Linked DNA regions of Homo sapiens. The protein of the gene in region 3 purifies or fractionates together with the protein of the main gene of each other region. This does not show direct contact. Each region holds a gene or a part of one and is shown on either strand. Other genes may lie near its edges. The genes, in order: MNS1, CCDC144A and RAB28.

Region 1 (3,656 bases), on a different chromosome or scaffold from region 3:
TTAATGATAATGACCAAAAAAACCCCACAACTTTTTCTTACTTTGTCTGCAAGGAATTGTTGGCGACGCTCTTCAATAAGTTTTTCCACAGCCCTCCTGTGTTCCAGCTGCTTCATTCTTTGTTTCTGAGCATTCATTAATTCTATTCGATCATCCTCAGCAAATTTAGCTAGCATAGTTTTTCTAAAGTTCTCCTCTTCCTCTTTTGCAGCCTGTAGCACTAATTCCTTCAAGGCCATTTGTTCTTCAAAATCTTGCTTCATCTCTTTTTGCTTTCTCAATTTCTTTTCTGCTTCTTCCTAAACAATACAGCTGAAAGTTAATTTAGTAACTATTTCCTTACACCAGATTTATAAGGAAAGAGTGATAGAGTTTGGTTAAATTTAGTATTACAATATGAAATCATACAAACTGAAAAAGTAAGGCTTTTCATGATAACTTTGTCCATCCCTTTAAAACTAGCTGGATAAAGAATATGCTTACATTTGGATTGTTTTCTGTTACTCATGAACAAATTTTAATTTATATTTACCATCTTGTTTCTCTACTCAGAATTAACACGTAACTGCTTTGGAAAGAGCTGTTACAAAAGCCTTTTTTGCACACCTGAGTTTATTCATCTAAAGTCTATGGTAACTATGAATCATTCTAGAATCTTGCTTACAAAAGCTGTCCAAACCACCCATAAGTATTTTTCAGTTTCCAACCTCCTCCTCAAAATCAAAGCTGCACTTACCCATCTCTAGTCTTCTAATATTCCCTTCATTCTCCAAAATTCTCTAAAATTTAAAAACAATTATCTAGCAATGACAATCAGTACTTCTTTAGGGAAATTCAAATATAGTTGGAACAGTTAAGTCCTTTCCTATAAGCTTTTATTTTCTGAACATTTTATTATGAAAAATTTCATACATACTAAAAAATATAATTTTACAATGGTCACTCACTTCTAAATAATTCATGGGCCAAAGAGGGAATGCCAAGGAAAATAAATACATTGTAGTTAATAAAAGTGAGACAGCAAAATTTGTGAGATGCTGCTAAAGCAGTTCTGAGAAACATTTATAGCACTAAATGGATACATTTAGGAAAATGTATATATATAGCACTAAATGCATGTATGTAGGAAAAGTCTCAAATCGATAATCTAAGCCCCCACTTCAAGAACCTATAAAAAGAACTGTAAAGTAAACCCAAAATATGCAGAAGGAAAAACATAATAAAACTGTAGAAATCAATGGAATTAAAAATAGAAAATAGACAATTATTGGTGAAACAAAAGGCTGGTTCTTAAAAATTATCAGTGAAATGGACAGACCTTTAACAAGGCTGACCTAGAAAAAAAAAATGAATGAATAAACAAATAACTAATATCAGGAATAAAACATAGGATATCACTAGAGACCCTACAGACATCAAAAGGATAATACAGGAATACTACAAATTATTATACACACATAAATTTGGCAACTTAGATGAAATGGATCACTTCCTTGAGAAACACAAGCTACCAAAACTCACCAAATATGAAATAAGGTAATCTGAATAGTCCTATCACTATTAAGGAGACGGAATTAATAACTTAAAATTCCTCCAAAATAAAACCCCAAGTCAGGATGGTTTCACTAGAAAATTCTATCAAATATTTAAAAAATTAACACGAATTCTACACAATCTCTTCCAGAAAACAGAAGAGGAGGAAACATATCCCCATTCATTTTATGAAGATAGTATTACCCCGCTACCAATATAAAAAATTACAGACCAATATTCCTCGTGAATATGGATGCACAAATCCTTAACCCAATATTAGAAAAATAGATCATACATTAAAAGAATTATTCACCATGACCAAGTAGTGTTTATTACAGGGATGCAAGACTGGTTCAATACTCAAAAATCAATGTAATATACTTGGCTAAAGAAGAAAAAGTCATAATCATATCAGTAGAAAAAAGTGTTTAACCAAGGATATCCAGGAATTGAACTCAGTTCTGCACCAAGCAGACCTAATAGACATCTACAGAACTCTCCAGCCCAAATCAACAGAATATACATTCTTCTCAGCACCACACCGCACTTATTCCAAAGTTGACCACATAGTTGGAAGTAAAGCACTCCTCAGCAAATGTAAAAGAACAGAAATTATAACAAACTGTCTCTCAGACCACAGTGCAATCAAACTAGAACTCAGGATTAAGAAACTCACTCAAAACCGCTCAGCTACATGGAAAGTGAACAACCTGCTCCTGAATGACTACTGGATGCATAACGAAATGAAGGCAGAAATAAAGATGTTCTTTGAAACCAATGAGAACAAAGACACAACATACCAGAATCTCTGGGACACATTTAAAGCAGTGTGTAGAGGGAAATTTATAGCACTAAATGCCCACAAGAAAAATCAGGAAAGATCTAAAATTGACACCCTAACATCACAATTAAAAGAACTAGAGAACCAAGAGCAAACACATTCAAAAGCTAGCAGAAGGCAAGAAATAACTAAGATCAGAGCAGAACTGAAGGAGATAGAGACACAAAAAACCCTTCAAAAAATCAGTGAATCCAGGAGCTGGTTTTCTGAGAAGATCAACAAAATTGATAGACCGCTAGCAAGACTCATAACAAAGAAAAGAGAGAAGAATCAAATAGACGCAATAAAAAATGATAAAGGGGATATCACCACAGATCCAACGGAAATACTACCATCAGAGAATACTATAAACACCTCTACGCAAATAAACTAGAAAATCTAGAAGAAATGGATAAATTCCTGGACACATACACCCTCCCAAGACTAAGCTGGGAAGAAGTTGAATCCCTGAATAGACCAATAACAGGCTCTGAAATTGAGGCAATAATTAATAGCCTACCAACCAAAAAAAGTCCAGGACCAGATGGATTCACAGCCGAATTCTACCAGAGGTACAAGGAGGAGCTGGTATCATTCCTTCTGAAACTATTCCAATCAATAGAAAAAGAGGGAATCCTCCCTAACTCATTTTATGAGGCCAGCAGCATCCTGATACTTTGGTCGTCTGTCATCCTGACAGAGACACCACAAAAAAAAGAGAATTTAAGACCAATATCCCTGATGAACATTGATGCAAAACTCCGCAATAAAATACTGGCAAACCAAATCCAGCAGCACATCAAAAAGCTTATCCACCATGATCAAGTGGGCTTCATCCCTGGAAGGCAAGGCTATTTCAACATACACAAATCAATAAATGTAATCCAGCATATAAACAGAACCAATGACAAAAAACACATGATTATCTCAATAGATGCAAAAAAGGCCCTTGACAAAATTCAACAGCCCTTCTTGCTAAAAACTCTCAATAAATTAGGTGTTGATGGGACATATCTCAAAATAATAAGAGCTATTTATGACAAACCCACAGCCAATATCATACTGAATGGGCAAAAACTGGAAGCATTCCCTTTGAAAACTGGCACAAGACAGGGATGCCCTCTCTCACCACTCCTATTCAACATAGTGTTGGAAGTTCTGGCCAGGGCAGTCAGGCAGGAGAAAGAAAGAAAGGGTATTCAATTAGGAAAAGAGGAAGTCAAATTGTCCTTGTTTGCAGATGACATGATTGTATATTTAGAAAACCCCATTGTCTCAGCCCCAAATCTCCTTAAGCTGATAA
Region 2 (3,656 bases), on a different chromosome or scaffold from region 3:
ACTCTGTCACCCAGGCTGGAGTGCAGTGGCACGATCTCAGCTCACTGCAAGCTCCGCCTCCTGGGTTCACACCATTCTCCTGCCTCAGCCTCCTGAGTAGCTGGGACTACAGGCGCCCACCACCATGCCCGGCTAATTTTGTGTATTTTTAGTAGAGACGGGGTTTCATTGTGTTAGCCAGGATGGTCTTGATCTTCTGACCTTGTGATCCTCCCGCCTCGGCCTCCCAAAGTGCTGGGATTACAGGTGTGAGCCACCGTGCCCAGCCTGAGTTATTTTTAAAAATCTGTATTTCTTTTCTGAATATGAAGGAAGGTGCTGGCATAGAATAACTCCAGGCTCAGTGAAAGATCTGAAGCCCACTCCTACCTTGTAACTAATTGGTTTTGTGACCTCAGGCAAGCTGCAGTCTCTCCGAGCCTGTTTTGTTTCTTATGTAAAATTAAGGACTTTGACTAAATCAGTGACATTCATACGTTTAAGTAAATCTCTTTTTTTTTTAAGAATGGAACTTTTTTAAATTGCATAAAACCACATTATAGAAAACAGAAGTAGTGCTGCCTGACTAAAGGAAGGATCAGTGCTCTGAAGCTGTGACTTTCTTATCCCTTAATCCTTCAGCATCCTCTGTGGAACCTTAGATTTCTGTGGGACATAGCTTGAAAAGGATCATTTCTTGAATTATTACTTTTATAAGGCCTGGATGGTAATGCTGTTGTCATGTTACCTACTCTATAAAGCCTATCTATAATGTTTTTGTCACAGAAATGTTATGGAAAGGAGTCTCAAAATATTGGTAAACCTGTTAGTAAAAAAAAAAATTGACTTGACACCTAAAATTTCTAAAGGCATTAGATATCATTATCTTTATCACCACAAACTATCTCAGACCCCGTTCTAGGCATTTAGTGAGAGAATACCTATTCTAAAAAAAAATTAAATAAGAGCACTCTAGATAGGGACACTGGCAATAAGTTTGAAATATTCTGACACCTTTCATAATTAAGTAGATAACTATAACTTGTCAGATGCTTAAAAAATGGGTACTAATTTCTGAAAAGAAATCAAAGTTGCAGTTAAATAACTCTAAATTGTTTTCCTAGTTTTTAATTCTAGACACTCATGAATCAAAGAAACTAAGATTGAAAACTGGCTCTAACCTGTATTTATCCTTGTTTTTATGTAAATTTTCTGAAATCTTTGTGTCCGTATGAATGAAGAAATGTTAATCATAATAGCATAATATTTTTAATCTTTTGCCAGTGGAACTTTCACATGGCATCACAACAATACTGCTTTCTTCAAGTATGTATTAAAGATTCTGTGCTGAATTAATAGCAAAGAACATACTTTGAAATTATTATTTTCTAAAAGTGGAGAATGGGGAGTTCATTGTAAGGAACTATTCATTAAAGTGAAAAACTGGTTAGACCTTGATAAAGGGCAGAGTTTTGATAAGAATGGGAAAGTAATGCATTCATTGCAGAATATGACTTGAATTGTGTAACCTCTGTACTAATAAGGGAAAACATCACACTTTTGAAATGACATAGCTCCAACAGACCAATATTAATTGTACTTTTGTGAGATTAATCTAAACAGCATAACACATATATGTTCTCCATTATCTAAACTTAAAATAGGTAGGAATTTATATGATATTTTTAATTTAAGCAATCTTCAAGTTAGGTCTAGTCTGTAAAAGTATTATTTAAAGGCCGCATTTTGTAATTAATGCTCCTTACCATGATAATGTATCTTCTTAAACGTTATAAATAATATTTGACTTATTTCAGATGCAGCAGAAGTTGCAAAATGATCTAACTGCAGAAGTAGCAGGTATGTTACCAAAATTTATGAATTAAATTTAGATTAAGTAATATATATCTGAAATAAACTGCAAACGACATCCCTTTCCGTTCTTGGGCTAGTAGATACTACATTAAATATTCTTTCATATACATCTAATGAAAGATGTGAAAACTTGAACATGTATAATGAAGAGCATACTTATGCCTCATGAATTCATCACGTTCCATAGCTTGAAAAAAATAGCTCAAGAAGTCTGGCTCTACTCTTCACTTCTGCCATCCCTATGGAATTGTCAGCCAGCACACAGAAACGGTTCTCAGAAAACAGAAGCATCATCAACTTCTCAGGGTTATGGTAGTGATTTTTAAGGCCAAAACATCCCAGTCTCATCTAGTAACCTATTCAAGCAGTTACAGTTTATAAGCAGTCGCTTGAGAGGTAACACTTTAAATCTCCAGTCATTTACAGTGTCATTGGTTTACTTTTGCCCTCAGAAAAAGTTCCAAATTCCTTAACATGTAATATAAACACCCACATTCATTTGGTTCTTGTCAAGTTACTCAGGCTTATCTCTCACCACTTACTTTACTCTGCCCCTTTGCTCTAGGATCCAGCCAAACTGGACTGCACAGAATTCCACAGTGCTCGTCCTTCTCCTCCAGCTCTTTGCACTTGCTTCTTTGCTCTATCTGCCAACCTTTTTTTCTCATCCTTCAGGTATCCACTAACCATGCCTCCACCGAAAAGCCTACAGTATCGAGACAAAACTGGGATAGGTGTCCCTCTTGCATTCCAATAGTGCCCTGTTTTATACCTGTCAGGGTATCTATGACTTGGTATGGAAATTGCCTATTTGTCTGCTTTTTCAGGTTATAGCATATGATTGCTGAGGGGTGGACTGTATCATCTTCATCTTGTAACTCCAGGGCATAGTCTAGTACCTTAGCATGTGGTTGTTGAATAAATGAATGAAGAATGAGAAAACCAGAAGCTGTGATACACAACCACAATGATCATTAATTTAGTGTGCAACTGTGGGCAGATTCTTATCTAATAATAAGTTAGCATTGTAGTCATACATACTTTTCATTCTTGTTAACACTGAAAAAGCTCTCAACTCTTTTTTACTGATTTGCACTTAGTTAACTATGAAATATATAGAATATAATTCTTTGGCCAGGCATGTTGGCTCACGTTTGTAGTCCCAGCACTTTGGGAGCCTGAGGCAGGCAGATCACTGGAGCCCAGGAGTTTGAGAGCAGCCTGTGCCAACATGACGAAACCCTGCCCCTATAAAAAATACAAAAGCTTGCCAGGCACAGTGGCTCATGCCTGCAGTTCCAAGTACTTGGGGCTGAGGCAGGAGAATTGCTTAAGCCTGGGAGGACAAGACTGCAGTGACCTGTGATCACACCATGGCACTCCAGCATAGGTGAAAGAGTGAGACCCTATCTTAAAATAATAACAATAATAATAATAATATAATTCTTGCTTTTTTTTTCAGCTGCTACTAAATATGAACCTGGATCCTATATAGCTTCTCCTCTAGGATTTACACACAAGGAAAATCTGAATCAAGATCCAGTTTTGGAAGTAACAAAAGAATATGCACAGATTTTAAGAAGAAAATACATACTCTGAAAGATAAGGCAATTTTATTTGGGCTATTCACATGATATTTTGTTTCCCATTAAATATATGATGTGAACATTTTTACTAAAGGGAAATATTCTATATTATACATGTCTGATGAAAATTTATATAGTATTTTAAATAATGTTTCTTGGCCTCTTCAGCTAACTTTTAAGTGGATTTTGCAAATGAAAACCAGTATTACTGAGTTT
Region 3 (3,656 bases):
GAAGATCAACATTCAGGTAAAGCTAAAAAGCAGAAAGGATTCTTAATACCAAAGGTTAAATGGGTACTTGTACTGTACAATAATATGCAAATTAAGGTAACTAAAATCTTGAGCATGTCTATTACATGCCAAGCCTTACATGAGATACTTTCAGATACAGTCTGAAAATAATTTGAGGGGACAATAAGGAATATATATTTTTAGCAAGTTTAATGAATATCTCAGACATGATAGAAATTTTTGGTATTTTAAAAACTAATACATACCTAGTTCAAACCAAGTAGAAATTCACAGTTTATTAATTGGCAAGTAAAAATGCTGAGGCTTAAAAATGTATTAAGAATTCTTAACACCAAGTAGATATGGCAAAACTTCCTTGCAATTCAGACTGAAGGACACAAGACAGGACTGAAAGGACTATGCTTTTTCTTTATCAATTATCTAATGCATTCTTAAAGAGCCGATTGCTGGATTTCCTAAACAACGGCAATTGTAAATTTATTTTTTCTCCTAAAGGTCTATGTACTTTGCAAATAAAAAATCTGAACAATCTGGGAAACTAGAACACTTGTTAACAACAGTATCAATTCTTACACTACCTTAGAGGATAATGGTTGGTAGTGGAGAAGGGGAAGACTACATAAATGATGCAAATGAAACTATTAACCAAATTGGGAATTGTGAAAAATGGATCTATAGTGTTCATTGTTTAAATGTTTGGCTGCCCCACTTATTCTGGGAGCTCCTTGAGGATAGGGACTTTCTCTTATTCATTTCTGTATCCCCAGATTCTAGTGTGGCCCCCTGGCATTACACAGACCCTCAAAATATGGTTACTGTGTTAATAAACTGCATTCACTTTCTTTTCTCTCTCTTCCTCTTCCTTGCAAAGCTTGCAAAGTGTGTTGATAACTCATTTTATATAACTCCCAAATAGGAGCAATCTAGGTTAGAAATAAACTAGCAGAATCTCTTTAAATTGTCAGTGAATGAAACTAGGACTAAAACCTCACTGTAAATATTTATGTCACAAACTAAATTATTATAGTAGAGCATCAACATCAATGGGACTGGTGAGTCTGCCATTTAACTCCTTCTCTATAGAATAATACAAAGTACTTTCAAACATTCCCTTGAATCCCCCCAGTAATCTTTCAAATGTCGCAACAACCACATGCAGTGTGTATGTGTGTGTATATATATGTATGTATGTATGTATGTGTGTGTGTGTATATATGTGTGTGTGTATATATATATAATCTGCACTTCTTAGTCTTTTAGATGAACTTGCCAAAATGTTTCCACTGAGAAATATGAATTGTAAAATCAATAATTTAATTGGCAAAAACACCAAATTCATCAGGATCAAGAAAGACTAATAAGGATTCTTGCTATACACAAAGAATTTTGACAAACATATAGAAGAGTGCTGCAGTAACTTGAATTCACCTTCAAATGAATGCATTAAGAGTAAATGCCACCAACAAACTGAAGATAGAATTAAACCTCAAAGCATAATAAACAAAGTAGATGTGCAGGGAGGGTAGGGAACTATGTAGTTAACACATCTAATATCTCTTTATTTAAAACACACTAGGATATTAAGCCCATATCTAAAGTCAAAATAGTAACCCTGTTGATCTTGCAACATGAGGGACCTAATGTTAATAAAGCTTCCCCCAAATTTTGCCTCCAGTTGTTTCATTTCTCCAGAGGTCTCCTTGTATCTGATCACCACTGCACAGCTCAGGCAGTACAAGGAATCCTTCCTCAGTGCAGCCCTCTCACCTGTGAAGCACCAGCCCACCATTCCCCTTTTCAGAAAGACAACCAATCATTGGGTTTCTCCTGTCTTCATTCCTCCAGGCAAGAAACCTCAGGGTTATCTCAGACTTCTATCCTCTCTTATCCAATAATTCCACAAGCCCTATTGGTTCTTCTTTAAAATCTCCCTTACATCCATCCAACCTTTCCATTCCATCTTGACTTTGGTCTTTTTCACATGGTAGCAGTAACTCAGTCTCCTTACCTCAATCTCCCTCCCATCCAACGACATATAAAAATATCCCATTAGATTAATTCTACCTAAAAACTGCTTTCATTTATTGCCCTACCTCAAAATGATTATAGGTCTAATAAAATTAATCAACTTGGCATTCATAAATCCCCAAAATCTGTTCTCAAACTCTTTATACTCTAACACAAATGGTCATTTATTTTAACCAAACTGCTCTTCTGTTTCCAAAATACAACCTAACCTTTTCTACCCAGGTATATTATTCATACCAGCTCCTCTTTCAGCCATTTTCTCCCTTCCCACTCCAAACTGCCCAGTACACTTTCCCCCAGTATGGCAGAGTGGAAATACCAAGGGCATTGGTGTCAGAGAGACCTGGGTGCAAATTCTGGCTCCACCACTGCCCAATTAATGGTTAGTGATCAAGTTACTGAGTCTCTCCACAGTCTCAGCTTCCTGATCATAAAATGATAAAATTTCACCTGATCCAGGGAGTTATTATGAGGATAACTGAGATAACACAGTCCCCCTGGCACATAACCTATTAATTTTCTTTACTAAAAGCAGGGACATTTTAAAGTCTTTTAATTCTTTTTTAGACCCACCACTATACTGAGTTTACAATGTATGACCAATAAATCACTTATGATAATCATAGACTCTCTAACTAAGCAGAGACAAACATTATTTAGACAGAGAAGCTAAAAAGCAAACAAATTACTTGACCTCTGGGATCCAAGGTCTGTGTGATCAAGCAAATCATGGTGACTTCTCTTTCCTATATTCTCCTAGGCCCAAAACAAGTAACCACTTTTTCTGTGTCTGGGAGCTATTTAAACATCACAAAGTATCTTAGCACTGTATTTGGCCATACCAAGTGCTAAAACAAATGTCTTTGAATGATGGGAATTAAAACTAGCAAACTTTTAGAGTTTCAAATGTTTTAATCAAGTCTTAGAAACAGCCATATCAGTGTAACAATTTCAAATATTTGCTTCAATTGTTTTAAAACACACACACACACACACACACACACAGAGAGAGAGAGAGACCATGAGAAAAAGATACAGAACTAACTCTAAAAGAATTCAAGAAAAATTTAAGGATGGGAAAAGATAATTATACTTTTTTAGTTGCACAGGGTGCGAATGGGGTGGAAGAAATTGAGCAAAAATGTAATTAGTTTGTTACTTCTAACCAAACCACTTCTGAAGCATAACTTTATAGGCTCTTACTCTGATTTTTCATTCTATCAAACATATGAATTAGTGGGAAATTATAGTGGTACTTTAAATTTCTTGGCTGCCGCTATGCATGTTTTTTTCTTAGCCTAAGAAAACTATCTAGGAATAGTGAAAAAACATAGAAATCCTTACTAATTAATAACACTACTAAACTGACAATAAAATAACATCAAAAACTAATATCACTACAGTCAAGGATGTTTTAAAATTGAATAGAGGCTCCAAAAGGATTTAAATAAAGAAGTGCCAAACAATGTGGTCAGCACCTTAACTCATTAGTTAACCACTAATAAAAATTTTCTTATACTAGTATCTTTTTCCCAACAAAAGAGACAAAATGAGGTTTCAAGGGTATCATAATTTGGCAAAAAGTTAACATTCTCCATCTTCTGCAA

Evidence for each region.
Region 1: the proteins of RAB28 (region 3) and MNS1 purify together in Homo sapiens (affinity purification with mass spectrometry; one large-scale study listed by BioGRID and IntAct). This does not show direct contact.
Region 2: the proteins of RAB28 (region 3) and CCDC144A purify together in Homo sapiens (affinity purification with mass spectrometry; one large-scale study listed by BioGRID and IntAct). This does not show direct contact.

What each region holds. Positions count from the first base shown.
Region 1 is NC_000015.10:56,434,097-56,437,752, forward strand, and holds part of MNS1 (meiosis-specific nuclear structural protein 1), read right to left. Parts: intron 1,852-3,656; exon of another isoform or gene 1,685-1,851; intron 1,244-1,684; exon of another isoform or gene 300-1,243; coding exon 42-299; exon of another isoform or gene 1-41. UniProt on the Homo sapiens protein: Microtubule inner protein (MIP) part of the dynein-decorated doublet microtubules (DMTs) in cilia axoneme, which is required for motile cilia beating.
Region 2 is NC_000017.11:16,770,181-16,773,836, forward strand, and holds part of CCDC144A (coiled-coil domain-containing protein 144A), read left to right. Parts: intron 1-1,796; coding exon 1,797-1,839; intron 1,840-2,419; coding exon of another isoform or gene 2,420-2,688; exon of another isoform or gene 2,689-2,995; intron 2,996-3,316; coding exon 3,317-3,453; 3' UTR 3,454-3,656. UniProt on the Homo sapiens protein: May play a role in preventing the formation of kidney stones through inhibition of calcium oxalate monohydrate (COM) crystallization, attenuating COM-induced apoptotic injury to renal epithelial cells.
Region 3 is NC_000004.12:13,372,742-13,376,397, forward strand, and holds part of RAB28 (ras-related protein Rab-28), read right to left. Parts: intron 1-3,656.